2 linked regions of the Homo sapiens genome follow. The protein of the gene in region 1 interacts with the protein of each later gene in a biochemical or structural test. Each region holds a gene or a part of one and is shown on either strand. Other genes may lie near its edges.

Region 1 (7,276 bases):
TGTAGCCCAGGTCTCTGTGCCAGTTGGCACCCCCTTCACCTCACCGCCTGCTCAGAGCATGAAGACAGAAAGAGTGTCTCAGCCAATGCCCAGGCAGGAGGCCCCTTCCCCCCACCAACAGACCTGGCAGAGGCTGAGAATGTGGGGGGCCTGGCAGGAGGCCTCCAGTGGCCACAATCCCCACCCCACCATACCCTAGAAGGTGACAGGCACAAGGAAGGGTGGCATGGCCTGGAGCTCTCTCTTCCTCAAGTGAGATGAGTGCCCAAGGCCATGCCAGAACCAAGCAGGAGGAAGAACTGCCAGACGGCGACAGGCCGCCTCAGTTCCTGCAGTGCTGGCACTAGCCCCAACCCTTGAACATGGCTGGTGAAAACAGTTTTAGTTCTTTAAGCCACAAGTTCACTGTGTGACATTCAGAGACTCATCCTCCTTTCTCTGAGCCTCAGTTTCCCATCTGCAAAATAAGGGGAGGGGGTAAGCTATGATCTTCAAAGATTTTCTGCATAGATACTTTATGAATCCATGATTTCAACATTTGAAGACTCCAAAATTCTAGGATTCTAAGGTTCAGGATTTTGAGAATTCCATGTTTCTAAGAACCTGTCTTTCCTTAGAACACAAAGCTTCTAGAATTGTCCAATGTTGTGGTTCTAAGATTCGATCATTCCAAGATTCTATGATTCTTGGATGTGTTGATGGTCTCATACATCTTAGGCTCTCAGAGGCTCCAAAGTGGGTTAGGATGAAGTTCAGGGAGCCAGTAGGACCAGTCCTGAGTGACACAGGTGTGTCACCTGAGTGTGAAGGAGGTAGAGTTTGTCTCATACCTCACTCCCTTCCCATACACTCCCTTTGGTCCTCTGTGGCGTTCCCACCTCTGCCCTGGCCTTGGACCTGCCCTGATTCCTCTCCCACCCCACCACCAAGTCTCATCCCACCTGTGCCCATGCATCCCTCCCCATCTCAGAGACCAAGCATGACTTTTCTCAGGGACCCTTTGGAGTCAGATCGGCTGGGGTTCAAATTGTGGATTTGGCTTTTATTTGCAGCCTGAATTTAGACAAGTTACCTAACCATTCTGGGCCTCTGTTTCCACATCTATTAAATGGAACTAATAACAATCTTTACCTCTCAGAGTTACTGTAGAATTAGGTCAGATAATATATGTAATATGCCTAGTGCCTGACATATATTATATGCTCAACTAAATAGGTTTAAAAAAAAACAGATCTGGGCACTGACCCCAGACTTCCTTAATAGTTTGTTTCCTGTGGTGTTTCTTTGACTCCCAGAGCTCTCTGTGGTCATCCCCAGGCACCTATTAGGGGATGAACATCATAGCACACACTGAGGCCAAATCTCCCAGGTCTCATTTACTACTGCACCAATCATGATTCTGGTGGCCTCCTGCATTCTTCTAGCCCCACTCATAAATCAGATTAGTTTGCCTCAACTCACCTCAGGCCCACAGACCTTGGGCGGGGATACAGAGATGAAAGTGGCTCAGAAGTTGGAGGAGAGAATGGGAAGGCAGGAGTGAGAGGCAAGAGACCAGTCTGGAAGGAGAAGCAGAGGCTCACGGAGGTCTTTGAGAGCCTGAGAGGCAAAGGAAAGCCATGGAAAAGCTTTAAACTGGGGAGTTCCATGATCAGATTTGCATTTTAGAATCATCACTGTGCTCACAGGAATGGAGAACTGATTGGAGGGCAAGACTGGAGGCAGGGAGACCAGGGAGGGGCTGTTGCAGTCATCCTGTTTTGAGATCATGCTGGACCTGGACCAAGATGGAAGCTGTGCTGATGGGCAAAAGTACAGATTTGAGAAACACTTAGGAGGTACAATGGGCAGGCTTTGGGACAGACTGGATAGGATATGGGTGGAGAAGGCAAAGGAGCCATCAAGGTCAGGATTGAGGTTTCGGGACTGAACACATACGTGAGTGTGCGGCACTTGGCATAACAGGCAGTAAACATTATTATCATTAGTAATACAGTAGTCCCCCCTCATCCTTGGGTGATACATTCCAAGACCCCCAGTGGATGCCTGAAACCACAGTTTGTACTGAACCCTACATAGACCATGCATAGATTTCTTTTGCCTTCTTTACAATTTCACAAATAGAAGATTCATCCTTACTGTAGATCTTAGCAAACTCACTATACCATTTTTTTCCTTTCCTTATTAATTGAGAACTTTTACCTTTTTACTTAAAGAAAGCACTTTATGGCTTCTCTTTGGCATATCCAAATTGCTGGCACTGCTACTCGTGCTTTGGTGCCATTATGAAGTAAAATAAGGGTTCCTTGAACACAAGCCTTGCAATACTGCAACAGTTGATCTGATCACTGAGACAGCTACCAAGTGATTAACGGGCGGGGAGCATCTACAGCGTGGGCACACTGGACAAAGGGGTGATTTACATTCTGGATGGGACAGAGAGGGATGGCAACAGAATTCACCATGCCACTCAGAATGATGTGCAATTTAAAACGTATGAATTCTTTATTTCTGGAATTTCCAATTTAACATTTTGGACCAAGGTTAATCACAGGAAACTGAGACCTCAGAAATTGAAACCATGAATACTGGGGGACTGCTACAGTAATATTACTTCCCATTATTCATTTATTTATTGAACTTTTTGTATGTCAAATATTATACACATTCATGGGCCTGGTACATGACTTAAAACAAAGTCACCTCCTGAAGGAGCTCACAGCCTAGTGAAGAACACAGATAGATACAATACATTCAGTCTGACAAACGCTATGATGGCGTGAGCATAGGGTCTTCAGGCGAGGCTTCTCTAGGAACATGCCTGAGCTGGATCTTGGAGAAATTAACAAGATGCAGAAGGGGAAGGACTTCTCAGGCAGTGGGTGCTAGATGCAAAGGCACAGAGGTGGGAGTGGATGTGGTTCATGAAGGACACAGAGGCTTCTCTTTGGCATATCCAAAGTGCTAGACACTAGCTCCCTTTCCCACAGGAAGTGTCCACTTGGATGGGCCACAGCCAAATCTCTTTACCTGTCTGAACAGACTTAAAGTGACTGGACTTAGTTGATCTAATCTGATTTCAGGACAGCAATGTTTACCAGACAGATTCCAAATGTCACTGTGTCATCCCCAGCCTATCATGAGGTGGCTCCTGCCTGCTTTTCCAGCAAAACTTTTTGTGGTGGCCCTGTTTTCAGCCTCACCTCCTCTTGCTAAATTCCTCACTCTTCCACCAGCCCCCAGGCCTCCTCCTACTGTGCCTTCAAACATGCTGTTTCCTCCACCTGGAATGGAATCCTCCATCTCCAATGTTTGACCAACTCCTTCCCATTCTTCAAAAGCCAGCTTAGATGCTACCCTTTCTGTGAAGCTGCCCCAAACTTCCAGCCACTGGCCTTTCCTGCAGAACTGAGTTCAGCCCTCATTACAATTCTCATCACAAATGGATTAGAGGTACTTCTTAAGTAAGCTTTGCTTCCTAACCAAACTGGGACCTTCTTGAGAGCAAGGACCAGATCTCATTAAATTTTGTGCTCAAGGTAGAGCCTACATAGAGTTCGTGCCTGATGAACGAAATCAATGATGAAAGAACAGAGTTAACAAAGAGGGAGAGATTCTGGAAGAGGAGCCAATTGACGGTCCTTAGTCCTGGAAGCTTCTTTCATTCTTTTTTTTTTTTTGAGATGGAATCTTGCTCTGTCACCAGGCTGTGGTGCAGTGGCGCAATCTCTGCTCACTGCAACCTCCGCCTCCCAGGTTCAAGCGATTCTCCTGCCTCAGCCTCCGAGTAGCTGGGACTACAGGTGAGTGCCACCACGCCCAGCTAATTTTTGTATTTTTAGTAGAGATGGGGTTTCACCATGTTGGCCAAGATGATCTCGATCTCTTGACCTCGTGATCCACCCGCCAGGGCCTCCCAAAGGGCTGGGATTACAGGCGGGAGCCACCACGCCCAGCCCTGGAAGCCTCTTTCTTTAACAAAAGGAGTAGTTCATTATATGGGAAGAGGGCCAATTCCCTTTCAGCACTTTTACCTTGCCACCTAACAGAAATTAGCTTCTGACAACCCCCACTTTCCAGCTCCCTGCCATCTGAATGCTCAAACCACTGGCCAAACCAAATGACAACATGTACAAAAAGGTCAGGAGCCCAGAGTAGCTAAGGGGATGAGTGATTCCATGATCTTCACGCATAAGTCAAAATTTCCAAACTGTCTCTATCCAAGTTCCAAGCTCATCCCACAGTCTGGCTTGAAACTCTCATGCTGTGATAAAAGGTTTTTTTATGGTGGTCAGTTAGAAGGGGTTAGTGCGGTTGAGAATTCTTCCCCAATAGGAAGCAGAAAAGACAACTAGAAAGAAGCTTCTGGGCTGGAGGGGAGGCTGGTCAAGACCTTGGAAAGGGCATCAGGAGGGGCCGGGGTGAGAGGAGAGAGGTCTGGAATTGTGGCTGGCCTGTCCCCAGGCTGCAAGAACTCAGGAAACCTGAGTGAGCCAGGCTGCCCAGGAATGTAGAACGTTTACATCTCTTCCCTCACACCCACACAGCCATACTTTCTCTATTTATTTATAATCCCCTCTTCACACAAACAAACTTGCTCCCCTCTGAGACATAAGCTCTGCTCTGGGCTCTGGCACCCGGTGGGAGAGGCCTCTTAAGGAAATCAGAAGAAAAGCCTCAGCTCCTCAGTGGCTGAGCTGTGCAACCCGGAGAAAGGAACTGCATTTCTCTGAACCTGACTTTTCCCTCTGGCACATGACAGACATACAGGAACATAGAAGGGCCTCTAGGGAGAGAACTATCAAACCAGGAAAGGCAGCTCTGTTACCTGTTAAAGGGCAGGAAACAGGGTGGGGACTGTTCACATTTTTTTCTGCCTTGGACATATATGCTTAGATTCATAGAATCGTAGAAAGCTAGGGACTCAGAGACATCCAGTCCCCTGTTTCCTTTGTGGGAAATTGAGTCCCAGAGAGAGATCAGGACTTGACTAAGCTTGATTCACTCCAGCACAATCTTCAATGCCAGTCGTCAGATGTGGAGAGAATGCTTACAGGGACACCCATCCCCTACTAGGCAGGACTAGAAGAAATGGCCTTAATTTGTAAACAGAAGGCTTCTGGCGAGACACAAAAAAGAACTCCTGAGTACAAGAATGAGGATGGGGTCCTGGACAGAGGAAGGGGGACGCCTGAAATGATCTCTGTACTACACCTCCCAGGGGCACCGCTGTCATGCCAGTCCTTTTCTTTGAGAATATGAAGGATTCAAGGTCCCTCTCCCAGAGTCCGGCGCCATGGTTGGCGGCTGGGGGAACTTGAGAGGCCAGTCCTGGAACAGGTGCAACAGCTGGAGCAACTGCGCAGCTGTTGCCGGGCTCAGGCTCAGCAGCCTGTGCGCCAGTGAGTGAGGCAGAGACCTCTGCTGGTGGGAGAGGAGAGGTGCAGAACGGCCCAGTCAGAGATCCAGAGAGAAGTCAGCCTGGAGCCGGACTTCAGGCCTTCACTTAGGTGCTCCCCACTGCCTCATGCACACCTGCACAGGTAGATGGGGATGCGACTAAGCTGGACAGACAAGCAGGTCCCCTCTGGCCGGTCTCCCACTACCTTCACTGCCCCAGGCCATCCAGGCACTTTTTTCTGGTGTCTGAGGGTCTGCCTGTCCACTCCTCCCTGGCAGGGCAGGAGTACCACCCTCCCACATCCCTATTCCAAAGGCCAGAGTGGACTCGGAATCAAGGCAACCACACCTTTGGGTTTTGGAGACTTAGAATTACGAAGTGTTAAAACTAGAATGGTCCTCAATAATCATCCACTTGAGTCCAACCATCTCACTTTACAGGGGAGAAAACTGAGAGGTAGAGAAAGGCAACCTGTCCAGGGTCACAGTTGGAATTGATGGCACAGCCAGGGCTGGATCCATGACTTTCTGATTCCAGGTTTGCCCTCCACATCACATCCTACCAGCGGAGCTCCCTTCCTGTCCCATGCCTGCGTCTAGGGTCCGGAATTCATCACCTGGGAACGAAAGCTTCGATTCCCATAATAAACAAAACCCTTGAAGAAAAAAAATACATGGATTGTTTTTTTCTCAGCAGGGTCTCACTGTGATACCCAGGTTGGAGTGCAGTGGTGCAATCACAGCTCACTGCAGCCCCCATCTTCTGGGCTCAAGCAATCCTTCCACCTCAGCCTGCCGAATAGCTGGGACCACAGATATGTGCCACCATGCCAGGCTAATTTCTTTATTTTTTCTAGAGACAGGGTCTTGCTATGTTTCTCAGGCTGGTCTCAAACTCCTGGGCTCAAGTAATCCATCCACCTCGGCCTTTCAAAGTGCTGAGATTACAGGCGTGAGCCACTGCACCCAGCCCCATGTTTTTACTTGGTAACTGACTCTCCTGAAAGCAGGATTGGATGGAGGGAGGGAAGAGAAAGCAGAGCATACTAGACACCTACAAGGGACAATTAGGGAAGAGAACCAAAGAGAGGAGCTGAGAGGAGTAGGGCAGAAAGCACTGAAGAGGGAGGTAAGAAGATAGTAGGCCTCTGGTGGACACTCATCCACAAAGAGCCGAGTGTCTAGAGTGACCAGCATCACACATGTCTGTGGCTCAGCCTGGGGCTGGGACCAGTACTGGTCAGTAACCAGGTCAGGGACCCAGCCTGGGTAAGGGGTCTTGTATAGGGGTGGAATTGGTGTTCAACCTGTGGCCAAGGTTGGAGGACTAGGGCTTGGCTTGTGGCTGGAATTGCAACTTAGTCTGTATTGGGATTAGGGCTCAATCTATGGCTGGAAATAGAACCAAAGAGAGAATACTTTTTGTTTGAATAGCCTGAGGAGCAAACTGTTACCTGTGTTCACAGGCCCTTGGCATTCTTCAGGGCTCCGACACCTCAGGAGCCTGATACCACACAGACTTGAACATTTCCATCCGTTAGCACTGTTTCTGAAAGCACCTAAGATATCACCAGATTTCTGACCCACAACAGGCTTGAGATCTCACTTAAACTAAGATGAGGACCTTTGTAAGAGACCTTCAAATAGCATCTTGGCAAATGACTATAGGATCCTTTCTAGATTCATAGGCTGTCAGCACCAAACAAAATGAGGCTCAGATAAAGAAGTGGTCTGTCCCAACTCACACAGCCAATAAGTGACAAATCAGGGTCCAGGACCCAGGTCTGTTCTGTTTTTTGTTGTTGTTGTTGTTGTTGTTTTTTAAGAGATGAGGTCTCACCATGTTCCCCAGGCTAGCCTTGAACTCCTGAGCTCA
Region 2 (7,276 bases), on another chromosome or scaffold:
CCCCAAACCTTCTGCCCACATCTACAAGTTTTATTTATTTTGTGGGTTTTCAGGGTGACTAAGTTTTTCCCTACATTGAAAAGAGAAGTTGCCAAAAGGTGCACAGGAAATCATTTTTTTAAGTGAATATGATAATATGGGTCCGTGCTTAATACAACTGAGACATATTTGTTCTCTGTTTTTTTAGAGTCACCTCTTAAAGTCCAATCCCACAATGGTGAAAAAAAAATAGAAAGTATTTGTTCTACCTTTAAGGAGACTGCAGGGATTCTCCTTGAAAACGGAGTATGGAATCAATCTTAAATAAATATGAAATTGGTTGGTCTTCTGGGATAAGAAATTCCCAACTCAGTGTGCTGAAATTCACCTGACTTTTTTGGAAAAAATAGTCGAAAATGTCAATTTGGTCCATAAAATACATGTTACTATTAAAAGATATTTAAAGACAAATTCTTTTCAGAGCTTCTAAGATTGGTGTGGGCAGATTTTTAAGAGCCTAGAGTTTAGTCTTAGAGAAAGAGTGAGGAGATAGTAAGGTTAGATAGAGCCACTGAGTTTCAAGAAAAAAACATACTACTAAGAATCCCATATGTTATAATTTAAAGCCTTTACTTTTGGCCTCATGCTGCTAGGTGAAAGAGTGGTTGTTCACAGGACTTGTATTTTCCAAGATGATTAAAGATGGTAAAATACTATCTTTCAATGTTATCAAAAAATGGTAGCAACTTATACTTCTATTTCAAAGCCATATAAATTTAACAAAATTAAAGTTTGTGGGTGTTTGATAACCCAATCACTCAATATCCAATTAAAATATGGAATAAGTTTCAAATAAAATATGGAATTACATTTCTCTGCTTCTGATAACTGTGGTCACTAATCAACCCCCATGTTATCCCCGATATGTCTAGGACTTAGCTTAAAAAGATAGCAGATGTATTTGAGATGAGTGGGAACTATACATGGGTATCAGCTTTCTTGGTAAATTTCTGCTTTTTCCATGGCCTTGACCATCTTTGCTACTGCGCAGTGAACCAGGACTTAATTTCTCACACTGTTTCTGCAGGTTCCGGTACCAAAGAAGATGCAGTTCAAAATACTGCCAGTTTTCCAAGAAATTTTGTAAAGTTGAACATGGCCATCTACTCTTGCCTTAAAACTTTTCTCACCACACCCACCTTCCCACATGCATGATATCCAAGGTCGACAGACCTGGATTAGAATCCACTCTCAAGCTTCTCATGCAGTGCGTATTGTATTTTCTGCATAAGAAAGGGCTGCCTCTAGAACACAGTAAGTGTATTTGCCCAGTAGTGACATTGCCTACATATAGCCAAGTGTTATAGTATACCAACTTAGTATATTTTTCAAGGAGAGCTAAACCACCTTTTGTAATGTTTGGTTTCTCACTGTTATCTTCCTTTCCTATAATTAATTTATTTTAATCTACAAATTGACATAGGGCTAAAAGCTTCAATATTTTACAAAATATTAATTAATGTAATTGTTCCCAATTATTAGAAACTTTTTTCCATTTTTCAAAATGTTTGCCAACTTCACACAAGTGTGTAAAAATAGGGCTCTGGATTTTCAAAAGCACATACATGAATAATTTATTAGCTATTCCAGGCAAGCTAAGTACTAGAATAAACTAGATAAAAACTTGGCTTTAAGCATGTACTTTGATATTTATAAAACAAAGGTGTTTTTTTTTCATTTCTGCATCTGAATCAATACAAATTTACACATGAAGAATTTTGGCTGTAAATTAAAATTTTAGAGATTTTTACTACTGCCCTCACCTCTGCCTCCTCTTAACTGTTCTCTTCCTTACTCTCCCTCTCTTAACACTTTCTCTCAAATTAATTATCTTTTAGTTAGTGATGACATTATTTTTCCCAGCTGGTACAGGTAATATTTCTCACAACCAAGCCTTAATCATTTTTAAAAAATACACTCAACTCTAATTCTGGCCTAAATATTATTTTTCTGAAAAAGCTTCTGATTTAAGATTGATTCCAATAGACACTAAGTTGGAAAAACATCAGCCCAGAGTTTTGATTATCATCCTGTTTTCCCCACAGGGGATAACTTGTAGAAGTGGGAGGGGGCACAAAAAAGAGGAGGAAATTTGATCCCTGTACAATGAAAGAGGGCCTTGCTGAATATTCACTGGAATTTCCAGGCTTTTTCCCATCCGAATTTTTGAAATGCGCCCACCTAGTTCAGAGTAAAAGCAAAAACTATAGCCTATCCTTCTTAAAAATACTGTGTTTTGCACACAAACATTCATTGCTTTAAGAACATTAAAAAATGACAGCCTGAAGTGCTTAAAATGTGTATGGACATGGTACAATACATGTATATATACATACAGATATGCATATGCACAAGCAATGTATATATACACATACAAGCATGTAGTTCCATGAATTTGATTGAACTTGATATCCAACAGTGTACAACTACTGTACATCCAGTATGAAATGTCCTGTTTCATGGATGTAAAAGGAGTCAAAAACCAAACTTCTCAGGTCTTTTAAGCCTGAACACAATCCACACTACTCAACCTTGAATCCCAACCCCTGACTCATTGATGGTGAATGATACCAACCACAGACAGACTGTTTAAAGGCTCACACAAATGTCTTTGGTGTATGTGTCTATTTTTTAAGGTACAAAATAATAATAATAATTATAATTATAATAATAAAAATAGCTATTTTGTGTGCTGTAGCAGTTCTTTTATAGCTCACATTAAGTGCAGCTCTTAAACCCCACCCCCACCCCCAACCAAAGAAAATACTTGTTAAATAAGGATTAGACAGGTCAAACACCATTGTAGTGCAAATAGTAAACGATTAAAAAAAAAACAACAACAACATTTACAAAATATAGAAATGTTTGGATCCAACAGATGGACAAACATATTCCTTTCAAGTATCTCTCCTTGAAGAAAATAAAAATTAATCAGATTACTTCCAATACAAAAAAGTCTCTCTTTTTGTTCTCTCTCAGGTAAACAGTTTCAAACCTATTAGGTTGCATAGTTCTAAGATCATAAGCACCTTAACGAAATGTAACTTGGTATTCTTTTTTCCTTGATCTTTCATTCTTTCCATACTTGTTCTCAATTTTTTAATGTTGTTTGTTTTGTTTTGTTGCAAAAGTGGTACAGAAAAAGGAAGTGTGACCACCTGCACACGATTGTTCTTTTACCAGTATGTGTATATATGTAATGTGTGGAAATGCCTGTGTGTGTGTGTGTGTGTGTGTGTGTGTGTGTGTATGCTGATATACACAGAGATAAGTGTCACACAGACATACCTTATGACCTGGGTAATTGGGTAGGAAAGTGCCTGTGATGGGCCCTTTCAAACTCATGGCTTTCTAGATGCTATTTGGGTTGTTCTAGTCCACACTACTGCAGACTAGATTGGTTGATTCAAGGCTCACAAGGGAACCTCAAGGGGGGAAAGGACAATACCCCGTTTAAACAACTGATGTCATCAGTGTGATTTCAGAAGAAATAAAGGGTACACCATTCTCCCTTTCCCTCCCAATTCCTGTCTCTTTCACTGCTTCATCTCTGAGCCCTGGCTAAGGATTTTTTCCACATCTTCCTTCATCTGTTTCATCAGGTTTTGTTTTTAATTTACTTTTGTTTTTTTTTGTTTTTTTTTTTGTTTTGTTTTTAATTTCTATTTTTCTGGTTAACTCAGAAACCTTAAAAATTTCTTCATTTTGCCACTGTCTTCTCTGGACAACTCTTGCTCCCTTTCCCCCTGGGCTGGGCAACTCTATGAGCACCCACACTCCTCCACGATCATGTTCTGAATGTCCTTTTTGATGATGTTTTGACCATCATCATAGTACAACATGGACATGGGTCTCAGCTTGGTGGGCACACAGCACGATTTGAGGTTGGCAAAGGGGCTATGGCCCCGCATGCGGTAGTGGTTGATGACTGTTGAGTGGAAGGACAGTGAGGACCCGGACGTGCCTGCTATATGGCTCGGGCACTCACCCTCGCAGTAGTTGGCATGATAGCCAGAGGGAGCAATGATCCAGTCATTCCAGCCGATGTCCTTGAAACTGACAAAGAACTGTTTCTTACAGCAGATGTTGACCTTGCCATCACACTCCAAGCCCCGCCGACGCCGGCGATGAGGGTGGTCTTCAGACTGCCGGGCCTGCAGCATGAGGAAAGGTCTGTGCGACTGCTCCTTTTCCTCATCTGCTCCTGCCCCACCTTCACCTCCGCCCTTCTTTTTCCCTTCCCCCTCCTCTTCTTTCTTCTTCTTCTTGCCCAGGAGAACCAAGCTGGCGCCACTCTCCTGGCACTGCTCACAGGCAATCCGAACGTCCAGGGAGCTCTTGCCCTGGTCCAGCAACCGCTGGATGCTGCTGGAGACAGGGAAGACATGCCAGGTGCTCTTCCGAGCGTCTACTACTTTTTCAGAGAGCAACAGTTCACTCCTCTCCCCCTTTAAGCCCACTTCCTCGGCCTCTTCCCCTGTGTCCAAGCTGCCCTGCGGGTGCTTCTGCTGCTGGAAGAGGCGGATGGTGACTTTGGTCCTGGTCCTGTTGGCCTTGGGGACTTTTAGGAAGAGCCAGACTTCTGCACGCTCCACCACTGACAGGTCACTGCCTTCCTTGGAAATCTCGAAGTGCAGCGTCTTCCTGGCTGTTCCTGAAGATGAAAGACAGCATAAGAGAAAACAGGCACACCTGTTAATTCCAACATTTACATGCACTCGTAAATTTCAGGCAAGCAGGAGTCTTCTGTGACAGACCCTCTTGAATAGGGGTCAACAAATGACAGCCCATGGGCTGAAACTGTTTCTGTACTGCCTGCAAACTAAGAATGGCTTTTATACTTTTAAGTGGTTAAAGAAAAGTGATATTTTGTGACATGTGAAAATTACCTGAAATTTAAACATTAGTGCCTGTAAATAAAGTTTTGTTGGAGCATGGTTATGCTCATTTCTGTACATGCTGCCTATGGCTGTTTTTGCACTATAATAACCAAGGACTGCGTAGCTGCAACAGACTGCCTGGCTCACAAAGCCTAAATTATTTACTCTCTGGCCCTTTATAGAAAAAAGGTTTTGGACCCTTGCTTTAGAATGAAGAGGGCCTGCGAGTCTGTGTCTGTTGACTAATTGCTCAACCTCAGTTTCATCTTCTATAAAAATGGGAATGACATAAGGACATTTGACCTGTTATCTCACAGGTTTAGGAAGGTCAAATGAGATAACATAAACAAAAAGACACTGTAAGCTCTAGAAAGCTAAGGAAATACTATTCTCAGACAAAAATGCAGCCCCTGGCCCCACCTCGCTGTGTAAGTCTGTGCAGTCGAGACACACTTGAGCCAGCCTCTTCTTCCCTTGTCACAGCCTGATTCCTCCGCCATCACCTCTTTGCTGGGTCACTGCAGCAGCATTTTCTTTACTTTGCCTCTGCAACACTAAGGAAGGCCTCCTCTCCAGTCATTTCTCCATGAAGCAGCTAAAGGCATCTTTCCCACAGGTGGATCTGATCACATCACTTCTTCTTGAAAGTCCTTTACTGAATTCCTATTGCTCAGTATCCAACAGAAAGTGGCTGGGACTTTGGGCTCTGTACATGCTGTTCCTCCCTTGAATGTCAGCTCTTGCCCAGTCCTGTTCTCTGGGGTCTAAGGCCTTGAGAATTCCACCCCCTTTCTCAACTGCAGGCAGTGACACCTGCTGTTCCTTCTGCCTTAAGTGCTCCTGCCCCAACTCCAACATACCACCCTTAGTGCTGCCTTTAATAATGTTTCAATTTTCAGATTGTTTGGATGACAGTTCCTCTAGGAGGCTTACCTCACATCACCTCCACCACCACCCTCCTGCCAGCCTGGTTTAGAATGCCCGGGGTCTAAGGTCACTATCATAGTCTAGTGTTTAGCAGAAAGTAGCCAATGACTTGATTACTTATTAACAAATAGAGGCGTCCTTAGCATTGAGTTCTATTAAATTAAGAGAGCCACCTAGTACCTCTGAATCCCCCATTTTTGCCTCTGACCCATTACAGGGCAGATTAATGGGCACCAGAAACATATGTCAAATAGCAATCGCTGCTAATGGACAGGAAATCCCCACATTGTCAGGGCAGTTGAATTTAGCAACCACTCAGTTCCAGCCTAACTCTAAAATTAGAAAGTCACCTATTTCCTTCTCTTTTCCTAAGCAACTGTATGTTTAATGACACAGCAACAATTACTATGAAAGCAGGTATCCAAACTAAAATTTTTTGATTAATCAAATATTTTCCCTCACTTCCATTTTTCCCACTTGGTGGCATATAGAAACATATCCTCTTTTCCATGACCGTGGACCTCCTTACAACTGTCTGCTGTACATGTATCCCATGCACAAATCTGGGAACAATCTTCAAGAAGTTCATCTTAGAACTTGCAACTCCCTGGGAGGATCTCCCTGCCTGGATTTCTATAGTTAACGGAAATCCAGCCATACTTATCACTCGAGGCCCTGAGATGTTTACGGTACTATAAATTTTAGGCACAGTTTCAAGTTCTCTGCAGCAGAAGGCAGGCTTTTCTGTGCATTGCGTACTGTGGATTCTGTTCTTAATTTAACACACTCTGCACACTGTGATTATGATAGTGGTAAATTCACTGAGGCAAGGGCCAAGCAGGGCTGCAGATGGATAGGAAAGGTTCTCTGGCATCTTTCTATAAACTTACGAGGATGCTGGCCATGATGATGGTGGCGGTGGTAAGGGGAGTTCCTCTGACTCCGACCTCATGTCTTTGGCAGGAGTTGAAATGAATAATAAAGCTGGGTTTATGATTAGATAGAATACCAGAGCAGAGAGAGCAGTTAGAGGGAGAAGCTGTCTTATTTTAGGAAGCATGATGACTTATTTTTTCAAAATCTGAATTCGATATTCCCCTTTGCTAAGAATTGGTGTGGGTTTTGTTGTTGTTGTTTGTTTCTTAACAAAATAAAAGAGAAGAAGATTCCCATAAGCAGAGCTTAATCATTTAAATCTAAAAAGGCAATCAGCAGTTGATTTTAGGGTGGCAGGGTCCTGCCAAGGCCTTAGGAGAAGGCCGAGGGAAACCTCCCAAGCCTTGGATAACTAGCCTGGAGGGTGTGCAGGTTTCCTCCAGCTTGGGCACATCTGCCTTGCCCCATAGAGAATGTTAACAAGATACCTGCTGTTTTCCCTTCTGCCTCTATGCAGGACAGCTTCTGAAATCCTAAACTGCACAGGGTGTCAC

Evidence for each region.
Region 2: the proteins of CHRDL2 (region 1) and INHBA form a complex in vitro, tested with the Homo sapiens proteins (one study listed by BioGRID).

Annotation. Positions count from the first base shown.
Region 1 is NC_000011.10:74,721,333-74,728,608, forward strand, and holds part of CHRDL2 (chordin-like protein 2 isoform 2 precursor), read right to left. Parts: intron 1-7,276. UniProt on the Homo sapiens protein: May inhibit BMPs activity by blocking their interaction with their receptors. Has a negative regulator effect on the cartilage formation/regeneration from immature mesenchymal cells, by preventing or reducing the rate of matrix accumulation.
Region 2 is NC_000007.14:41,685,850-41,693,125, forward strand, and holds part of INHBA (inhibin beta A chain preproprotein), read right to left. Parts: intron 4,694-7,276; coding exon 3,801-4,693; 3' UTR 1-3,800. UniProt on the Homo sapiens protein: Inhibins/activins are involved in regulating a number of diverse functions such as hypothalamic and pituitary hormone secretion, gonadal hormone secretion, germ cell development and maturation, erythroid differentiation, insulin secretion, nerve cell survival, embryonic axial development or bone growth, depending on their subunit composition.